Linked DNA regions of Homo sapiens: region 1 is linked to region 2. Evidence: fine-mapped expression QTL. A gene starts in region 2. The other region holds a variant in brackets. All regions are shown on one strand. Distances are from middle to middle.

Region 1 (11,454 bases), 38 kb after region 2:
GGGGTGGCATTTCCTTCACATGACTGGAATGAGGTCATTTGTGTGAGACCTGTGTTTACCTGTTTTTTCTCCCATCCACACCTATTATGCAAGACTCTCATCCTCAGATTTTCCCTTCAGATGTTTAGCAGAGTGCTCAAAGGTAGGTCTCACTAGTCCAGCATAGTTCCTATTCTCAGGAATAAAATGTCTGTTGGTCATGCTGTGGTTTCTTCATGACGAGGCAGGCACTTAACCGAAGTAAAATTAATAATGACTGAGTCAGGAGCTCTGAGTTTTTGTCTCGGTTCAGTTTCTAAACAAGTAAATAACTTTGGATGTGTAACTTAGATTACTTGCCATTCCTAAAGGAACACTGGGTTCATTTAGTAATGTCACAGTGTTTCTAAAACTATGCTAATCTGCCACCTGTGTGAGAATCACCAGGGGATTTCTTGAAAATGTGGATTCATACAAAGTTCTTGGGTCCCAACATAGATCCCCTGAATGGGGCTTCAGAACTTTTGTTTTTAGCAAGCTTTCCTGGTGATTCTGATGCACATTAATGTCTAAATGGCTACTGGTATGTAAATATTTACTATGATGTCAATTTTTTTTTTTTTTCTGAGACGGAGTCTCGCTCTGTTGCACCTCTGCCTTCCGGGTTCACGCCATTCTCCTGCCTCAGCCTCCTGAGTAGCTGGGACTACAGGCACCCGCCACCACGCCCGGCTAATTTTTTGTATTTTTTAGTAGAGATGGTGTTTCACCGTGTTAGCCAGGATGGTCTGGATCTCCTGACCTTGTGATCTGCCCACCTCGGCCTCCCAAAGTGCTGGGATTACAGGCGTGAGCCACCGTGCCCAGCTGATATCAGTTCTTAAAAGCCATAATAACTTGCAGAATATAAAGGTGAATATCTGAATTCAGTTCAGGGAACCATTAAAATGTAAAGGATGAGATCATGAAAAAAGCATTAGATTTATTACATAACAATTTGAATTTTATTATCTTTTGTGGAATATTAGGTGATTTCTTCTGTACTCAACTGCATTTTTCTTAACATGGATTACGTTAAGAAGAAATACAAGCTAACAACAGATCCAGATCCAAAGAACTATTCAGTTAGCTTACAAATGCAATTGAAACACATAAAAATTCCCATTGACAGAACTGAGATATGTAAATTTCATGTTAGCCTTGGATAGAGTATTCATGCCTTGGTGTAATTATCCCTCCTATGGAGTGCAGGTAAAATAACTGTCTTAATCAATAGAATACAGCAAAAGTGACGGGATGTCACTTCTGTGATTATGTTACAGAAGATTGTGATTGTCATCTTGCTAGCAGATTCATTCTGTCTCTTCCTTCCTCCTTCCTCCCACTTTTGCTGGCTTTGATGAAACAAGCTGCCATGTTGGAGAGGCACATATAGCAAGGAATTGAGAGTGTTCGCCAGCCAACAGCCAGTGAGGAACTCAGGCCCTCAGTCTAATAGCCCTCGAGGAATTGAATCCTGCCAAAACAACAAAGGTGAGTTTGGAAGCAGATTCTTGCCCAGCTTAGTCTTCAGATAAAACTGTGGCCCAGGCTAACATCTTGATTGCAGCCTTCTAAAAGACCCTGAGGTGGAGGATCCAGATAAGCCACACCCAGACTTTTGACTCACAGAATCTCTGGGATAATAAATGAACGTTCTTGTAAGCTGCTAAATTTTGGGGTGATTTGTTACACAACAATAGATAATTAATACAGTCTCTAAAGGATAATGGTGTTTTAAAACAACCACAGCACCATTATCAAACATAAAAATGGGCAAAAATTTCTTAATGTCCACTCTTCAAATTCTCAGTAGTTATATATATATATATATATATATATATATATATATATATATATAGAGAGAGAGAGAGAGAGAGAGAGAGAGAGAGAGAGAGAGAGAGATGGAGTTTCACTCTTGTTGCCTAGGCTGGAGTGCAATGACAGTCTCAGCTCACTACAGCCTCTGCCTCCCGGGTTCAAATGATTCTGCTGTCTCAGCCTCCCAAGTAGCTGGGATTACAGTTGCCCGCCACCATGCCTGGCTAATTTTTGTATTTTTAGTAGAGACAGAGTTTCACCATGTTGGCCAGGCTGGTCTCGAACTCCTGACCTCAGGTGATCTGCCTGCCTTGGCCTCCCAAAGTGTTGGGATTACAGGTGTGAGCCACTGTGCCCTCCCAGGTCTCATAATTTTTAACCTGAAACTATGTAAACTAACACAAAATAAATTATGTGCTTGAGGAACACTATTGGCCTCATCAAATTACAAATAACAGGAAACACCTAATGTAAAGCCTTCTACGGAGAAGCTGACAAAAGAATGCGTGTTTGAAAAAACGCCTCAGATCCAACATAGGTCTGGGGTCACAGACTCTGAAAGTCTAGCAAATGATAACAGAAAAGCTGGTCTGTTTATGCAATGAAAATTTAAGACAGTCTGAGGATAAGGAAGGGTTGTGACACACAACTGAGTAACCCCAAACAATCATTTGATACTCTGATATCTGCATTTTTCAGAAGTCTTGTCAAATAGTTACATGTACTCAGATTTGTCAAAGTAACTTGTTTAACTCTAGAAGGAAAAAAAATACCTGCATGGTGGCTCATGCCTGTAATCCCAGCACTTTGGGAGGCTGAGATGGGTCAGGAGTTGGAGACCAGCCTAGCCAACATGGCGAAACCCCATCTCTACTAAAAATATGAAAACTAGCAGGGTGTGGTGGTGGGCGCCTGTAATACCAGCTACTCAGGAGGCTGAGGCAGGAGAATTGCTTGAACCCGGGAGGCGGAGGTTGCAGTGAGCCGAGATCGCGCCATTGCACTCCAGCCTGGGAGACAGAGCGAGACTTTGTCTCAAAAAGAAAAAAAAAAAAGAAAAACTGGCTGCAGGCTGATAAAGTCGGAAAGATGCAGGCATAAATTACAAGATTACCATTCACTATTGCCATTGAGTAAATACCTTCAATGACAAGTTGTATTACAGTGCTATTAGAGGAAACATGGGACTGAGACAACAGGATAAACCAAAAAGCATAAGAAACCATTTCATTATCCAGTTTGATTGAAGAAGGGATGGAGTATGTCACCAAGAAGCCATTTTTTTTTTTCTCAAGACACACAAAATTTAGGGGACTAATATAAATACAGTAGGCCCTTCATATTTGTGGGTTCCGCATCCATGGATTCACCCAATCGTGGATCAAAAATATTTGGAAAAACAAATTCTATAAAGTTTCAACAAGAAAAATTTGAATTTGCAATATGCCAAGTACTACATGGAATCTGCATTTAACAAAGTTATATGTAGGCATTGTATAAGGTATTAAATGTAATCTAGACGTTGTGTAAAGTTTACAGGAGGATGTGTATAGGTTATGGGCAAATTCTATGTCATTTTATTTTAAGAAACTGAGCATCTGCAGATTTTTATATTCCTGGGGGTTCCTGACACCAGTTCCCCATGGACATTGAGGGACAACTGACTGTACATGGAGGATATAACTTGTGAGTCTTCAGGGCCTCACATTTTGGAAATAAAGATGTCCTGTGAGCATTATAAATGAGTAAATCTGATAGACAACAGACATGATTTTCCATCTCTGTGGATAAAGCAGGAAAATATCTGTGAATACGATACTGAAAAGATTGGGTTCATCTAGTCAACGTCATCTGGAAGTAGTCCCATGGAGGTGGGGCAATGGAAGTGCTTCAGGAAGAAAAATAATAATAATAGTATGCTCTCATGAGCAGAGACTTGGAGATCCTTTAAACAGCATGGGGCTGAAACAAAACTAGAAGACCAAGGACAAATTTTAGAAGATTTTAAGGAAAGGAACTATGAAATAGATGGCATAAGTGCAGGGTAAGAGGCAGCTTAAGAGAGAAGGAGAGATGCAAAAACAGGGCACAAAACAATGCAGAATGAGCTGAAGGGGGTTCTGCCGGTAATATTCGACTAGCCCAGTGAAGAAAATGCATTCAGCACAGATCCATTAGCTATTAACTAATGGATACTTGAGGTACTAAAATGGATTTTTTTTAAAGAATAAAAAGTAGTTTCATTCCATGGGGAATTTATAGTAAACTGTTCCAACAGAACTAGAAAATAAAATTCTTATGAATGTTAAAGGAATAAAATTTACCACACAAGCTATGAATCAATATAATCGTTGAAGGAGGTAGTGAGAGTTTGAATTCCAAAAGACAGTATTTACAGAACCAAAGGAAATGTAGATGGGCAGATATAAAGATAAGCTTTCTATTGGAGGTCCTAACAAGGACAAAGGCAGTTGTGTATTGATAAATGTTTAACAACTGAGTTTCCATTAAACTATTTGTAGTGTTAGCCTATTTCCACTATGTAAATGCTCCTGCTACAGTTGATTTCCAGCTACCAACATGATGTCACTTAACGCAGAGTTGAGAAGGGATGTGCACAATTTGCTGTCAAGAGCACACCACTTGCTTAAAGGCCTCCCTCATCAAT[G/T]TGATTAAAAGAGGAACATTCCCATGCAAAGAAAATGAAAGATGAAAGTGGGAAAAGGAAATACATGTTGTAAAGGAGATGTAGGATGAGCATAAATGAGGGGAAGATGAAAGAAAAAGAGATCAAGGCAGACAGAAGTCAGCTGTATACAGTACTCTTATGAGCAAAAGGGCCAAGAAAAGTGTGTGAGAGTGTGCGTGTGTGTGTGTTTGTGAAAAGTGGGGGAGGTGTAATGGTGGGAAGGGATAGATTGGTTGATTACCTAGACATGAATACTCCTAGGCAGTTTAAAGGAGTGTTTGTAGAAGCATGGACTTTGGAGTCAGGAGACCTTACTTCAAATATTGGCACCACCACTTACAAGTACCGTGTGTGACCTTAAACAAAGTTGGTCAACCTCCCTTACCTTTATTTCTCTTACCTGTGAAATGTAGAAAGTGTTTAGCAAGATGCCCTTCATATACTAAGTTCTCAGTAAATGCTAGCTGTTAATGTTATAAAGCAGTAAAATGAAAAAATGCTTTTGATTCACTAAAAATGGGTAGTCTAATCTTTAAAAGTTAATAACATTAGTGGGTTTTAAAAAGTATTTATTGATCCCAGATGTCAAAATTTGGCCTAAAGAGGATCAAATCTGACAAGCACATAGTTTGTATCACACAGTGATATATGATTTTTGAATCACTGCTGATATTTAAAAATTGATAAATTCCACAGGAAAAATCGAGATTTTAGATTTTCATGAAAAACCAGGAGTTTTGTAAACCCTGGGGTTGCATTCCCACATTGCATCAGTTGACTGGAGGTAGCCTAGTGGTGGTTTCAATCCTTTAGAAAGGCAGGTGTTTCCGTTTTACTTTCCTTACTCAGCTTTAAAGAAAGTAAAGCTTGTTTACATTACCTAGTTACCTTCCTGGCCCCTAGAGGCACTTCAATTTGTATTCTTTAATTCATATCAAATACATTTCAAAAGTGATATGAAGCAATCGTTCAGCAAATGATTGAGATTCAGACCAATGCGGAATTCAATACTTTTTATGCTCCAAATCTGCAATTTACAATAAGGTAACCATGAGCCATATTTGGCTATTGAGAACTTAAAAAGTGACTAATGCAATTGGAGATGTGCTAAAAGTATAAAGTACACACAGGATTTTAAAGACATAGTACAATAAAGTGAAATATCAGTAATTTTATATTGATTATGTGTTGAAGTGATAGCATTTTGGATATACTGTGTTAAATATATTATTAAAATTAATTTTATCTGTTTCTTTTTACTTTTAAATTATGTTTACTACAAAACTTAAAATTAGATTTGTAGCTCATAATATATTTCTATTAAATAGCACCATTCCAAATCATTTAAAAGCTATACCATGTTTTTAAAATTAAAAAAACTTACTTTAAAATGTCTGATAAAAATGATAAACAATCATTTTGGAAAACACAAAGAAAAAATTAAAAATCTTAATTCTACTAAATATTGATAAATATTTCAGTTTCTTTTTGTTTAGATTTTTCTACATGAAATATTCATACATAGAATCTTATTCTATAAAAATTGGATCATACTGTACATACCATTTTATGTTCCTTTTTCACTTAACATTTAAACATAATCTTGGCTGGGCGTGGTGGTTCACACCTGTAATCCCAGCACTTTGGGAGACCGAGGCAGGCAGATCACTAGGTCAGGAGATCGAGACCATCCTGGATAACACGGTGAAACTCCATCTCTACTAGAAATACAAAAAATTAGCTGGGCCTGGTGGCGGGTGCCTGTAGTCCTAGCTACTTGGGAGGCTGAGGCAGGAGAATGGCGTGAACCCGGGAGGCAGAGCTTGCAATGAGCTGAGATCGCACCACTGCACGCCAGCCTGGGTGACAGAGCAAGACTCCGTCTCAAAAAAAAAAAAAAAAAAAAAAAAAAGCAACCATAATCTTTTTGAAATATCTTTAAGAATTCTTTGAAACAAAGTTGTTAAATGGATTAACAAATTGAGTACAATAATAACAAAACTGGGAGAAAGTACGAGAAAGTACAGATAATTATTTAATTCAAGTATGTTAAAGGCATTTCTCAGCATATGACTCAAGGAAATTAAACATAAAATAACTGATTTTATTACATAAAAAATAAACTTTTGTATAAGTACAATGTAAAAACAGGCAAATGAAATACTGAAAAATATTACATATAGGAAAGACAAAGGATTAATATTATAACTATATAGTAAATTGATTCAAATCAATCAAGGAAAGGGGAACATAAAAATATCAAAAACGACAAAAAAGGAAAGGTAAAAAATTTTATGACTGACTAATAGACACGTGGAAAAAATGATCAATTTCATCCACATCTTAGCTCAAGCTGCTATAACAAAATACCATAGACTAGGTGGCTTAAACAACAGAATTTTACTTCTCACTGTCTGGAGGTTGGAGTCAGAGTGCCAGCATTGTTGAGTTCAGTGAGGGTTTTCTTCCCAGCTTGCATTATAGATGGCTTCCTTCTTGCTGTATCTTCACAGGCAGAGAAAGAGATCCTGTGACTCTTTTTCTTTTTATAAGGCCACTAATCTCCTCCTGAGAGCCTCACTCTCATGATCTAATCTAATCCTAAGTACCTTCTAAGGATCCTACCTCCAAATACCATTACATTGGGGATTAGGGCTTGAACATACTAATTTTGGGGAAACACAAACATTCAGTCCACATCAGCTAGTAATCAAGGAAATGCAAATGAGAGCAAGTAACATTTTGAAGTATTAACTTGGCAAATAATTTTGATAATAACATCAGCCAACATTTATTGACAACTTATGATCTAAGTGCTTTACACGCCTTACTCATTCAATTTCCCTAACCATATAAATTGCTTACAGATGCTATTATAAGGAGATTGGACCACATATTCAAAGCCACATTACTTTATACTTGTGAGGCTGGAGTTGAACATAGACAGTCTGACTTCTGAATCCATGACATTATTAATTATTCATACCTAGAGATGAGGGTTCAGAAAAATGGGCAATTTTATACGGTGCTGGTGAGAATGAGAACTGGTACAACATTTCTGGAAGGTGGCTTGGAAATAAGTATTAAAAGAATATCTATAACCTAGAAATTCTATGCCTATTACTGTACTATATCACAAGTGAGTAGTCATACAAATAATTTGTATCTGGGCTTTGAAAATATCCAAGTGTGCAAGAATGTAAATATATGCAATAATAGGATGTTTATTTTAGCACTTTTGAAAAACCAAAAAACTCAATAAGACTTTAATGCTTAGAAATAATGGGAAAGATTAGTACATTAAGATGAAATAATACTTGGAAAAACTATACAGCCATTATAAATAATGGAGTAGTTCTGAGCAGAATGAAATGGAAAACTTTTTAGGCAATGTTGTTATATCAATTATATTGCATAGGGAGTTTTAGCTGTATATAAAAAATAATCCCCTCGAACTAGCTTAACTATTAAGGAAGTTTGTGATCTCACATAGCAGGAAGAGCACAGGTAGGTAGGACAGGCATCAGGGGCCATTGATTCAGTAACTAAATGAAGTCGTTAAGGATCCAGGTTCCTTCCATTTCTGGTCAGCTTCTGCTATGCCTGGTGTCAGCTTCATCCTAAGGCTGGAATTATCCCTAATGTAACAAGATGGCTGTTTATTGTGATAGAGTGTACATTCTTCTTTGTTTCTGTCCCTCAGGAGAGAGGGGAAAACCTTTCCTAACTATGGAATAAAATGCCATCCCTTCAATATGATCAGGCCATTTTAAGAGGATTGGCCACCCTCAACCAGTAATGGCCCTTAGGTAAATTCCAGGTATTGACAGGTTCAGAATAACTAGGACCTGTCCTCTGAAGCTTGTGGTGAAGTGGGATGGCATTGACATCCAGATATTTGGAGTTCTGTTAGGCAGGAAGAGGGAAATTCATGTTAGGTAGGTATAGATGACACTGGGAGCCTCAAACATAGGAATGGCTGAGGACACTATGGACTCCAAGAGGACCTGGTGGGAGGTGAAAGACAGAAAGAAGACATGCTGAATAATCTTTGGAAGGAAAGGAAGCGGGGCTTAAATAACTGAGGCAATCCAGAAAGTGCCAACACCCAGGGGAGGAGAGAAAAAAAAATAGAGGATCCAGAGAGAGAGAGAGAGAGAGGCTAAATAATATGACTCAATAAAAGCTCCCCAATGGACAAAAATCTGAGGGATCCCTGGATCCCTGGGGTTAAAACCGGAACAAGGAGCATTTTTCAGAGTACCAGCTCTGACAAGGCCATTCACTAGAGCTAAGGGGAAATCATGTGGGTCTGTGCCCACAGGATGCCCACAAAACCAGTCACTGAGGAACAGAATCAAGTGAGGAGAACTGCAAATAGATACATTCTTTAGAGTTGTTACTCTTATCACATACACAGCACCTCCCTTCCCATAATCTTGCCCTGCTCTGTGGACCATGTTGGGCATCCCTCTCCTTCCAGGAGTAGATAGAAAGTCAGCATTGAATGTTGTTGCACAACATCCCTGAAAAACAAACACTTTGGTTGTCTCAGCTTTGAATCTTGCTGAGGTTTGCAAAGGCTTCCACTGGGCACTGTTTGTTCACTTCTTAGGCCAGGTTACTCTCTTTACTTCACTAGCCCTTTCCAGAACATCTCAAACAACAACAACAAAGGGAAACAAACAAAAAAAAAACCCTCCAATCCAATCCACCTTTCTAGATCAGACCCAGATTCATCTTCCTCACAATAACTTCTCTGGCTCTACAGATACTCCCCTTCTCAGACTTTTATTGGGCTGACAGGACCCCATAATTTTTCAATTTTTTTTCCCCAGCAGTTGTTACATGCAACAGTGGACCTGCACAGGCATCCCATGTTCTGCTCCCACCCACACCCCATGATGCCTTAAATTATGTTTCATAATTGTTTTGTATCTATCACAGATCTTAGGCCACTGAATAATCAGTGAACTGGTCTTTCGGTTTCTCCTCTTACCCTTCTCCAATCCAGTCTCTATATGGCAATCCAAGGAACATTTTTTTTTTCTTTGAGAAAGAGTCTCACTCTTCCACCAGTCTGGAGTGCAGTGGCGCGATCTCGGCTCACTGCAACCTCTGCCTCCTGGGTTCAAGCGATTCCCCTGTGTCAGCCTCCTGAGTAGCTGGGACTACAGGTGTGTGCCACCACACCCGGCCAACTTTTTTTGTATTTTAGTAGAGATGAGGTTTCACCATGTTGGACAGGATGGTCTTGATCTCCTGACCTCGTGATCTGCCTGCCTTGGCCTCCTAAAGTGCTGGGATTATGGGCGTGAGGCATTGCACCCAGCCAGAACATTTTACAAGATAATTAGAGCATACACCTCCCCTCATTATATCCAATAAATGCCTCTGTTGCATTCAGGTAGTTAAAAAAAAATAAAACCCTTCAGGCCCTGTAAGATCTGGCTCTTGGCCACTACTCTGACACAGGTACTCTTTCCCTTCATTGCTAAGCTCCAGCGACACTGCTTTCCTTTAGTTCTAAATGGGCTGAGGACTTTCCTGCCTTAGAGCCTGTGCATTTGCTGTTTCTCCTGGGAGGCTAACCACACTCCTGCCCTGGCTAACAACTATTTACTCTTTAGGACTCATCTTAAATATCATGCCTACTGTTAGGGACAAGCTGCCCCAAAAAACTTCTTGGTACTGCCAACACTTCCCCCAAACCTCTCCGTGCTGCCCGTCCCTTCCCCTACACTCTGCAACTCTTCTCCTTCCCCCAAGCCTCTTTACATTTCTATGCCCTTATCCAGGCGCTGCAGTGAAGCCAGCATCACTTATCAGACCTTGCTGCAATAAACAAACCCCAATTATAAACCATCCGGACCGCACCAGGGGAGGTCGTGGGAAGCATAAACAAACTTTACCTACACCCCTGTAATAAACGTCACAAGGTGATATGTGGCAAAATTAACCAGCAAACAACCCCAGGGTCTCTCTTCCCCATATAAATCTCTCATTTTGTAAGCTCAGAGCTGCCTTCTCTGTCTGTAGTGGAGTAGCCAGCAGGTTCAATAAACGTACTTGCCTGAATTTGGGTCTATTCCTCCTTTCTCTTGGCTGACCTTACATTCTGGTGCTGAAACCCGGGAATGGGATAGACTCTGGCCGGGACTCACTCTCTCTCTCTTTATCTCTCTCTCTCTCTCTCTCTCCAACAATGTAAAAACTGATAAACTGAAAATCAACAATTCTTAGACTATGAGAGAATTGAGGTCACAGGGCAAACTACTGTCCCCCCAAATTGGAGAGACAGACAGGTGTATACAAAGAATCACAGCTTACCTGGAGCAGGAGCCCAGGAGCAGAAACCACCACTGGAGCTTGTACCACGGTAGGAAAACATAACCCATAATTGACAAATTACTGAAGGTTCAGTGTAGACAAGATTAAGAGTTGGAAATTCCAGGTGGGCTCAGTCTCAGCCTGTATCCACCCCTACTTTTGTGTGTTTATGTCCGGAGCCCTACCAGTTTCTCACAGTGAAGATCAGAAAAAAAATACCTTCCTGCTTCTGACAAGGGGATGCTAAAAGTAACCATTCTGATATATACACAGAACCTTTCGTTCTTCTTAACAAGACCTGCTATCAAGAGAAACAAACCAGCCAGGTGCGGTGGCTCATGCCTGTAATCCCTGCACTTTGGGAGGCTGAGGTGGGCGGATTATGAGGTCAGGAGTTCGAGACCAGCCTGGCCATCATACTGAAACCCCGTCTCTATTAAAATACAAAAATTAGCTGGGCATGGTGGCATGCATCTGTAGTCCCAGCTACTTGGGAGGCTGAGGCAGAAGAATTGCTCGAACCCAGGAGGTGGAGGTTGCAGTGAGCCAAGATCACGCCACTGCACTCCAGCCTGGGCTACAGAGCAAGACTCTGT
Region 2 (11,454 bases):
GTCAAGTCTTGTTACAGCAGGTAGCTAGTCAGGCATGAGTGGGGCAGGAGAGGGCTCCCCACCCCTGCACCAGAAATGTCAGGTGACCATCAGGTGATGATTCGGCAGTTGTCACACTGCCTCTCTAAAAATGAGAATTGGTCACAGGCACCAGGGAGAGGCAATTTCCTGATGATCCAGCAGTTGTCACATTAAAATGTAATTGGTCACAGGTGCCAGGGAGAGGCAATTTCCCAATAGATAAAAACACTTGAAATTGGTAATCAGCAGCTTCCAGTAAAATCTCAGGTATTGGGCAAGTGAGCCTGGGCATGCACATTAAGAGACAAAAAGGCAGAGTATGACCTTCTGGGGGCATTCCACTGGAAAAGGGAAGAAAGCCTCTGTTGAGCATGTGTACAACTGCAGTAAACACACTGCACATGCTCACCTCCCAAGTGCAATGAGGGCACTGTACATGTGGGTAGCCCACCCTAAAGGAAGAATAAAGGGAAAGGGATGCAAGACACCAAAAGTAGTCCAGCATATACAAGTCAAAAGGTCAAATGCTGCACTTGTCTTTCAAGTTGCCCATTGGGGCCCCTTCCAAGTGTCCTTTCCTTTCTTTCGTTCCTGCTCTAGAGCTTTTTAACAAACTTCTACTCCTGCTCTAGAGCTTTTTAACAAACTTCTACTCCTGCTCTAAAACTTGCCTCAGTCTCTTCTTCTGCCTTATGCCCCTCAGTCAAATTCTTTCTTCTGAGTAGGCAGGAACTGCAGTTGCTGCAGACCAGTATGGATTAGCTGTCAGTAACGAATATTCGCCACCCCTAACAGTGTCTGGCCACAGCAAGTGTCATCTTATCACCTCATTCCACCATACATATGCTTATCACTCTCAGAGCTCAGTAGTTTCACTATCAGCTGAGTCACTTGTCATAAGTGACTCCATTTTGAGACATTTAGGATCACAAACATTATAGATCACAAAAAGGTATTAAATATGTAAATTAGGCACAAATGTTTATAAATGAACTCTTCATAGTTTCAGAAATCTTTTTGGTAACTTAAATCCTTAAGTAATAAATAGTCATTAAATGTTCAGGTTATTTCTAAATAAGTTAGAATACTAAAACATTAATTACTAATCACATGTTTAAAATTTATATACGTTGGCATCTTGCTTTTATGTGGTATAGAGAAGCAAAATATATTTGGGTCTGTTAGTAAACACTTAAAAATTTGTTCTATGAGAAAGTACATGCCTCTAGAAATTATGAAATAAACTGTAGGGGCCAAAGGAAGACCTCTCCTTCACTCTGTGAAGATTTGCTGAAAAATCAACTCACAAGAGGGAGATTAATAGGAGAAATGGCACGCACATTTATTGGCTTGCGTGGAGAGAATCACAGAGTGATTCCCCCCCGCCCCCTATTGGAGTACGGAAGCTTATATACTATTTCGAGGTTACAGAAAGAATGGGGACTTGGAGCATAGCCAAAAACAGGTTGTGGTGGTAAATCAGGTTATAGCTGCAAGATGGGTTATGGGAGGGAGAGAAGTGGAGACCTGGCTGGCAAAGGTTGTCTTGTTATGTAGATGAAACATGACAGGTAGCAGCCATCAGAAACAATAGATGATAAATATTTTTCATAGACCTTTAAGGTGTCAGACTCTCAGTTAATCTTTCCTAGATCTAGACAAAGAAGGGCTTCAGAGAAACTTTGGTTGCATCAATGCAGATTCTTTATAGATGCAAAATCTTCCACAAGAAAAGAGTTTTGTGGGGTTACTTCTGCTCATTGTGTTAATGGTGGAAGATGTCCAGGTTCTTGGCGTCATGAACAAGGAATTGGACAAAACGCACAAACAAAGCAAGGAAGGAATGAAGGGTTTTATTGAAAATGAAAGTACACTCCATAGTGTGGGAGCGGGCCTGAGCATAGGGGCTCAAAGACCCCATTACAGAATTTTTGGGAGTTTAAATATCCCCTAGAGGATTCCATTGGTTACTTGGGGTATGCCCTATGTAAATGGAGAGGATGAAGTTACAAAGTCATTTACTTGGCCTGTGCCCTATGGAGAGGATATTTCCTGTCATGGCTGAAGTGTGAATCAGCCTTATGTTCCCTACCTCCAGATCCTATTTCCCTGCCTCAGTTGGCTGTCTGGATAGCCATCTCAAAACATGTCAAAGAAGTATATTTTGGGATGAAATATTTTGATTCTCTTCAGTATATTCATAAAATATTGGCATAAGACAGTTCAAATTGCCATTTCTTACATTTTCATAAAAAATAAGCTTACTAAGAATTCAAAATTTTAATTAAATATGTAATTAAAATTACTAGAAATAAAAAAAATATATGTATGTAAAGTGTACAAGGAAAGTAAGGTGTGTTTTTGTTACTGGGGGTCCTTGCTCCCAGAGCTCCCAAGATGGTGGTGGGCCACTTCCAAAATGGCAACAGGCCACTTCCAAGATGGTGGCAAGCCTCATGTTCTCTGACCTGGGGTTCTTGGCCTCACGGATTCCAAGGAATGGAATCTTGGGCCATGCGGTGAGTGTTATAGCTCTATTAGAAGTCGTGGGTCATGGAAAAGAACCGTGGAATCCAGTGACTAGTGTTCAGCTCGATTAGTACGAACCCAGGCACTTAGCCATGTGGGAACAATGGCAAGCCTTTAGCCAGATGGGGAGTGGTAATGGGCACCTCGCTAGATCAGGAGCACAGCGGACACCCTGCTGGATCCGGAGGGGTGGAAGTCAGCAGCGGGTCTGCGACAGCTGCAATACAGCAGTGGTGAATGGCGAGCAAAAGCTCAGCTCGAGCCATAACAAACACGGACCAGAAGAGTGCAGTTGCAAGATTTAATAGAGTGAAATAGAGTGAAAACAGAGCTCCCATACAAGGGGAGGGGACCGAAAGGGGTTGACGTTGCCGGCTCGAATGCCTGGGTTTATATCCCGATCCTTGTCCCTCCCGCTGTGCTCTCAGGCAATAGATGATTGGCTATTTCTTTACCTCCTGTTTTTGCCTAATTCGCATTTTAGTGAGCTCTCTGATTGGTCGGGTGTGAGCTAAGTTGCAAGCTCCGTGTTTAAAGGTGGATGCGGTCACCTTCCCAGCTAGGCTTAGGGATTCTTAGTCGGCCTAGGAAATCCAGCTAGTCCTGTCTCTCATTTTGGCAAGAGAAATTGTAAAAAGACATGAGAATATATTTTTGTTAAAAGAGCAAATTTCATCTAATTTGGAGGTTTTTGAAAGGATATTTCAAAATATAGATTTAGGAAGTGTCGACAAAAAGTGTCAAACTCTAAAATATTTAAAGGGATTTATTCTGAGCCAAATATGAGCAACCATGGCCCTTGACACAGCCCTCAGGAGGTCCTGAGAACATGTGCCCAAGGAGGTGAGGGTGCAGCTTGGTTTTATACATTTTAGGGAGGCATGAGACGTCAATCACATACATTTAAGAAATACATTGGTTTGGTCCAGGAAGGTGGGACAATTCCAAGGCGGGGCTTCCAGGCTATCAGTAAATTTAAGGTAAATTTAAACATTTTCTGGTTGACAATTCGTTGAGGTTGTCTAAAGAACTGTGACCAATAGAAAGGAATGTCTGGGTTGTGATAAGAGGTTGTAGAGACCAAAGTTTTACTATGTAGATGAAGCTTTTAGTTAGCAGGCTTCAGAGAGAATAGGTTGTGAAATATTTCTTATCAGACTTAAAGCCTATGTTGATGTTAATGCTGAAGAGGTATAATGAGGCCTGTTCAACCCCCACTTCACATCATGACCTAAAACAGTCTCTCAGGTTCAATTTTAAGAACGCTGGCTGAGGAGAAAGTCCATTCAGATGGTTGAGGGGACTTAGAATTTTATTTTTGGTTTACAGAAGGAAATACAAACAAGGCAGGGAATGAACTGGTAAGCAGAAGAGATTAAAAAAAAAGTTATAAGTATGAAGATGTAGTTTTGGTAAAGAAAGATGAAAAAAGTAATTTTTTCTTTTGCTTAAGAGAACTTTGTGTGGTCAAAATGATATAGGGAAAAGGAAAGTAAACTGCAAGTTATAGAAAGTTCACAGAATAGAAATCTCATGAAAGAAATTTTTTGTGTCATCAAGTTGCCTAAAATAGAAGCTAATTATAAATAATACAAAGTTTTGCCAAAAATTGACGATTAATAAAAAATGCGCTGGTGAAGGCAAGGTTTTGGGCTCCTGTGTTGGAATAACTGGGTTTTCTCAGAACATTAAGCTGTTTTTAAAAGGAAATTGTGCGAGGTTTTTCTTTACCTTTTAGGTAACTGGCCTAGGGAACAGAGATTCTGTGTTTAATCAAGATAATTTCGTGGGCTTTGTGCCTGTGAAATCTTTTGTCACTTCCATTTTATTTCATAGTGACCTGTGATCCTATTTTGATCAAGTATTCTAGACCACTGATAGTTGACAAACTTCTCAAATATCAAAATTAAGTATTTTTGACCTTGAAGTAACTTTGGGATATTATGACAAGCCCTAGAACTTCTGAAAGTAGTTGTAAAAGAGATATTACACCATCAGCTTATCTGATATGTTCATTTATATGAGAAGCACTGTCTAAATAAGGAATGATGGTTAATCTTCTCTGAGTTATATTTACATGGATATATTATTAATGTGTGTTCCGAAATTGTATAACATTCCTAGAACTCTGATATGTCTTGGTATAAATACTATCAGTCACAATGTTGGTTCAGAAATAACCAAATTTTTTTGTCAATTGCATCACTATTATAATAGACTTTCATCAGGTTTTTAATAATGGCTATTTTCAGACTTGATGTCCACAGTTAATAGTATTTTTTAGTAAAGAGGGGGTTTCACCATGTTGGCCAGGCTGGTCTCAAACTGCTGACCTCAAGTGATCCACCCGCCTCAGCCTCCCAAAGTGCTGGGATTGCAGGCGTGAGCCACCATGCCCAGCCTAAATCTTTATTTTTTTTATAAAACAATATTATGTGAACATTTTTATAAAACGGTAAATGATATGGTTTGAGTGTTTGTGTTCCTCCAAAATTCACATTGAAACTTAATCTCCAGTGCAACAGTATTAAGAGGTAGGGCTTTAGGGAAGTAATTAGGCCACGAGAGCTCCACCTTCATAGATGGGCGCCGTGCAGCAGGGGGCGGCGCTCGTTGGGGAGGCTTGGGCGGCACAGGAGCCCACGGAGGCGGGGGTGGGGGTGAGGCTCAGGCATGGCGGGCTGCAGGTCCCGAGCCCTGCCCCGCGGGAAGGCAGCTAAGGCCTGGAGAGAAATTGAGCATAGCAGCTGCTGGCCCAGGTGCTAAGCCCCTCATTGCCCAGGGCAGCAGCGCTGGCCGGCTGCTACGAGTGTGGGGCCCACCGAGCCCACGCCCACCCAGAACTCCAGCTGGCCCGCAAGCGCCACGCGCAGCCCCGGTTACCGCTAGCGCTTCTCCCTCTACACCTCCCCGCAAGCTGAGGGAGCCAGCTCTGGCCTCGGCCAGCCCAGGAAGGGGCTCCCACAGTGCAGTGGCGGGCTGAAGGGCTCCTCAAGTGCCGCCAAAGTGGGAGCCCAGGCAGAGGAGGTGCCGAGAGCGAGCGAGGGCTGTGAGAGCTGCCAGCAAGCTGTCACCTCTCACTAGTTTATTCCCTCTCTCTGGCCTGAGACTTTAAGAGCTACATTTCTGGCTCTAATCATTAGGAGTATCCATCTACATTGACTATACTTTATTTTGTCTTTAAGACAATACTTGATTCTTTTCTACTTTCATTACAGTGACACACTAAACTTTTACTTTATATTTTCCTGGTCTGTTTTTTGTATTCTCTCTCTAGGATGGGCTGTAGTTAATTCCAGTCACACGAGTATTTGCAGAACATTGTCTTACTTTGCCCTAACTTAAGTAAACCCCAAATATTATAAGAGTTTAGAAAAGCTGTGCATAGAGGGGTCACCCACTATTCCATGGTTCTCATTTCCACTTTGTTTCTCCAGGTCACATCTGAATCATTCCAGACAAGGTCCTATACCTCATTAAGCCTCAGCACCTTCAGGAAGCTGGTGATTCTGAGTTGAGAGTCCCCTTGTGAGGAATACATGGAGAAAAAAGTAATGTAGCAAGTACAGAGCTTGAGCTACCATAGGCACTCTGAGTCTCTGAGTCTCTGAGTCTGCAGAGTAAATGAATACAATGTAATGCACTGGAGATGACCAGCAAGCTGAGTTTTCCGTGTTTGTTTCAATAAGTATCTGGGTCCTAGGCCTCATGATTGTGATTGTTGCTAACCACCTTTGCAGGAGTGGCTACATTAGAAACATCTCCCTGGGTGTTAGGCTGGCAGCAAACTTTGGGGAGTGGTAAGAACAGGAAGTTAATTCTGTGACTCCTAGGACACTCCTCTCTATGCTTGGGGAAGGAACTTCCTGTAAGCAAGGCTTGAGGCTTGCTCTCGCCTTCGTCAGCAGCCCTCCTCAATCTTCTCCAAACTCCCGTCCCCAGGCCACACAGATTCTCCTCAAGAGAGCCCTATAAGGACATTGGTAAAATGTCACTGCCTTCAGGACACACTACGGGTGAGTTGGCCAGCATGAGGCTGGAGTCTCAGGTCTCACAGGGCAAAAGGGACTGAGCCCCCTTCCCCACCTTACCCTAACCCACATAACACCCAGCCAATCTCCCTTTAGATGGGGGTGGGCAGTGGCAAGGGCCCAGGCCTGAGTCTTGTGGCCTTCTCAGGGCCAGGGTTTGAGGTATGAGGAGGGTCACCTGAGGCAGGGGTTGGTAAAAATTAACATTCCTTGGATGTACACTAGAGGTGGTAGTGGGGCAGGGAATACATCTTTAATCTTCACACTAACCATTCAAGGTAGATTGTATTACCTCCCACCCCAGCCCCAGAAATTTATCAAGGCTAGCCTTATGGCCCAGCATATGACTTATTCTGGAATGTTCCATGTGAAGGTTTTCTGTGCAGTGTTCTATGTCATTTAAGCAAACTTATTACTCATGCCATTTAAATCTTCTATATGTAGCTGAATTTTTGTCTGCTAGTTTTATCTGTTACTCAGAGAGGTGTGTTAAATTCCCACATCACAGTGGTTTTAACTATTTCTCTATTTACTTAGATCAGTTTTTGCTTTGTATCTAAACATAGATTGGTCCATGTTAAGACATGCATACAAATTTAGAATTTCTTTTTTTTTGTATAACTTGAAACTTTATTTTTAAAGTATTCTGAAATTTTTTCAATAATTTTAACCAGCACTTACTTCCCTTAAGCACACACACATTTTTATCTTACAATTATAAGCCCTATTGCAGTACAAAAAAAAACAATAATTCTACTAAGTTAGCCAGCCAATTAATTCTACTAAGTTAGCCAGCCAATCAAACTATGTCCGTAAATAATCATGTTACAGCCTAGAATCAAACAAAAAATTCTTCTAGTTCTCTTTAAAGATATTTATCATTAATTTTTTCATAAAACCAAAGTAATTGATCCAACAATACTAACAGTTCTAGCATGCAACAGACCATCTAATATCTAATGTTTAATCTTCTTCTTTTTTTTTTTTTTTTTTTTTGTGATGGAGTCTTGCTGTGTCGCCCAGGCTGGAGTGCAGTGGCACAATCTCGGCTCACTGCGAGCTCTGCCTCCCGGGTTCACGCCATTCTTCTGCCTCAGCCTCCCGAGTAGCTGGGACTACAGGCATCCGCCACCATGCCTGGCTAATTTTTTGTATTTTTAGTAGAGACGGGGTTTCACGGTGTTAGCCAGGATGGTCTCGATCTCCTGACCTCGTGATCCACCTGTCTCGGCCTCCCAAAGTGCTGGGATTACAGGCATGAGCCACCGCGCCTGGCCTAATCTTCTTAACATGTGTATTTTCATTCCTATAAAGTTTCCTTAAGAAGCTTGCAATAATAATAAAGGTAAATAAGTACAGTTGTCCCTTGGTATCCATGGGGTATTGGTTCCAGGACCCCCCCTACCCTGCCCACCCACAGATACCAAAAATCCAAGTATACTCAAGTCCCTTACATAAAGTGGCATACTTGCATATAACCAGCGCACATCCTCCTGCATACTTTATCTCTAGACTAATACCTAATGGAATGTAAATGCTATTTAAATAACAGTTATATTGTATTTTTTATTTGTATTATTTTTATATTTTTCTCTCCTATTATTTTTGATCTGCAATTGGTTTAATTCACAGAGGCAGAGTCCGTGGATACGGAGGACCAACTGTGTTTTGTTATAGGTACTTCAAATAGCACTTCAGTACATCTTTGACAAAATTTTTACAATATTCCAACTTTCAATATGAAACAGCTTAAAAAGGCATGGGTCAAAAAAAAAGTATAGTAGCATCACTTAGGCAAATAAAGCCTCATAATCATACAAACACAACACTGTTAGGACTCTCCCTGTTTAGGTCGGGAAAAAGAGTATATAAAACATTTCCTTCAAATAAAATTACATAAATTGCTTAGAAAAATGCCAAAATCAATAATTTCAGACATAATAAGGAGAAAACCTTGAACATTATTGGAAAATATAAACTAGCTATTCCTTGCTTTTGTGTAACAGATGAGTTCTTGAAAAGTTTTGTATTAAGCAAATTCTGTAAACCACTATCTTGCCTGCACTGGAAGAACATATCCCAAGGAAACCTAAGAGAAAGTGTTTTTTAAAGCATGTGATTCTCCTCTGTTTTTGTTGGCTGTCTCTACGTAATAAACAGGCACACTTCTACATCATTGGGTGTTTTACTCAGACTGCCATGTTTCATCTCTGTAAATTAAACCCAAGTTACTTAAAAATCACCTGTGGTAAAAGAAGCAAGCAGATCACCCCCACCTTCTATCCCTCCCGCCTCCCCCTGCCCCAAAAGGGAGTTCTCAGATTATGATGCAAAATTTACAATTGTTCTTTTATCCACATTCTCAATAGAGGATTTTCCACTATATTTAAGTATGGTAGGATAATTACCCACCTGTTCCTCTTTTCAGCTTAGAAACATAATGGTTAATTCCTTTTATTGCTAGAAAATGTCATTCCTGAAGATTTTATAAACAAAGGCAAAGGTGAAGGACAATTTGTCATTATGAAATAAGTCCTTTGTAGTTTAGAATATTTCCCAAATCATAACAGTTCTATTTGGAATGATACCCACAACTCTACAAGCATCTTATCCCTCTACAGGAATGACTACCTTACTAATCAAAATAAAAATTTAACAAGGATCAAAATAAAATTATTTAGCATTAGACTCTTGCAAAAATAAAAACTAAAACTAGACCTAGTCATTGCCATTTGATCAAACTTAGAACAGGCTTAAATAATAGGACCACTCCATTAAAGAGGCATAAAAAGAAAAGTTTACTAAAATAAATGTTAAAGTCTTATGGAGATGAAGATCTCTAGAATAGAGTCTTAAATCTATGACTACTGCTATAATTAATGAGCAAATGAATGACTTGAAATTATTCCTCTGAAAAGATAAAACTGCATACATATTATGAAAAAGACTATGGCACTTGGAAAATATTCCTGGTAAATAAACATGGTAAATGTATATGGATACATCCTAGCCTCTTGCCTACTTTTAAATTATTTTGAGAAAGATGTCACTCGCTGGGAAAAAAAAAAGAAAAAAAAAACCTTAATCACCTGAAGAAGTGAAATTACCACATAGTCCTAAAAATAAATAGCTTTGAAAAGACCAATGAAAAAATACTATAATTTTCTCATCCATTTTCACCTTTAGTGCCTCTGTAGTTCTTTAAATTTACAAAAAATTTCCAATGCAATTTGAGCCACATGTGGACAAAATTATGCTTTCATATGAAATGTAAGATAAATGAAATATAGCAGGGATATGTGCTGCAGCTAAAAACCAATTTTTGCCTCTCGGTCTTTTGAGTATATATAAAAAGAGATGGCATGTCTTAAGGAATAATTCCTTTAAAAATGAATGAGACTAAATTATTTATACAGCATCATGAATTTATATTTTTCAATACAGACACAGCATATGTTTACAATATTAAAATGCCTACTTTATAGCATCAAATCATGTTCTTGCCTCTAAAAATTAATTTGGCTGTTTCTAAAACATTGTATTAATTTTCTATGTATTTTACCTCCTTACTATGCAGGACAAACAAATGCCTGTGAAACCATTCAATTTAATGCAGGCCTCTTGATAAAAACGCATTTTAAATAATACAGGCTTTAAAAATAAGATCACCAGAGACCACAATTGTTAGTGGTTGTGACAGTTTACATAACCGAATCCAAGGCAACCAGTTTCTCTTGTGGTCGTTCTTTAAATTGAGTAAGTTGATGTCTCTTCCAGTGAGGAGCCTGTCGGAATGTTTTGCCACAAACTGAGCATTCAAATAGTTTCTGCCCTGCATGAATTAGTTAGTGTTTTTCCAGTATAGATGGAGATCAGAAACTCCTAGCACAAACACTGCGTCGGTACAGGAAGACATCATTTTTCTCCTGATGTTCTGAATAACTGCAAAAAGGATGGCTTTGCTCTGATTCCAAAAGTACATTAGGAAGACAGGGCTGCCTGGTGCTACCAGGAATAAAATCCTGTGAGTCTGCCTTAACTCCTGACATTTGATCTGACTCTGAGACCTCGTATTTTTGAACACCAGGAGCCTGACATTGTTGGGAATCATTATAGTTAACATTATTACGTGGATGATTAGAAAGATTGTTCAAGTTTCCAAATTCTACTTGGCAAAGGGATGCATAAGGACTCTTTTCATTATGAATCTGTTCATGTCTTTTTAAGTGAGCTGACTGTCTAAAAGATTTCCTACAAATATTAACAGCAAAAAGGCCTCTGTCCAGTATGAACTAAATAGTGTCTTTTTAGTTTGGATACAGAAGGAAATACCTTCTCACATTTGTCACAGAGACATATCTTATGTCTAGTACGTATGTTTTCCCTTGGAACTGAAAAACCACACTGAAGTACCTCACAGTTATTAAATAATTCCTCACCTGATGAGCCACAGATTGACAAGTCTTTCTTATTCACTGAATTATCAATGCTTAATAAGTTTGCTGTAGTAAGGATACCTTTCATTTTTTTCCCACATTTTGGTTCTGGAACTGCTTTTGCCAAGAAAATCGCAAAGTCAATGTTTTTTTTTATTGCCAATTGTTTTATATGTTCCATGTTTGCCAAGAGAACCCACAAATGTTCTTTGGGTTTGTTCAGAGCACGGCTCACCAGAAATACGATCACAATTTTTCAAGAATCTCTTTTTAAATACTTTTTTCTAGGATCAAAAGTTATCTAATTTTTTACTCCTAGCACGTTTAAGCTTGGCCAATATTTTTTTTAACAATGGTTTTATAGTTGTAGCTTCTTTTGAACCTGCTTGGAATTTTGCCACCTCTAGCAGGAAAACACATGTGTTCATTGAGAATCT

Direction of the effects. Positions count from the first base shown, and alleles are read on the strand shown. Sizes are in standard deviations (SD) of each study's normalised expression.
As copies of G replace T in region 1, the expression in whole blood of the gene that starts at base 6,419 in region 2 goes down (small effect, 0.17 SD a copy in GTEx).

The links. PIP is the estimated chance that this variant, and not a neighbour inherited with it, causes the effect.
Region 1: its variant is the best candidate, but not a certain one, in a credible set for the expression of NXF3 in whole blood (GTEx, PIP 0.71).

Annotation. Positions count from the first base shown.
Region 1 is chrX:103,050,442-103,061,895 of GRCh38, reverse strand. No RefSeq gene overlaps it. Among named protein-coding and RNA genes, the nearest start is that of BEX1, 8.0 kb to the left of the region's middle. The variant G/T (reference allele first, on the strand shown) is at 4,508.
Region 2 is chrX:103,088,108-103,099,561 of GRCh38, reverse strand. NXF3 (nuclear RNA export factor 3) reads left to right here and starts at 6,419. Exons shown (of 20, transcript NM_022052.2): 1 at 6,419-6,566. The coding sequence starts at 6,539. It also overlaps the pseudogene LOC100128601.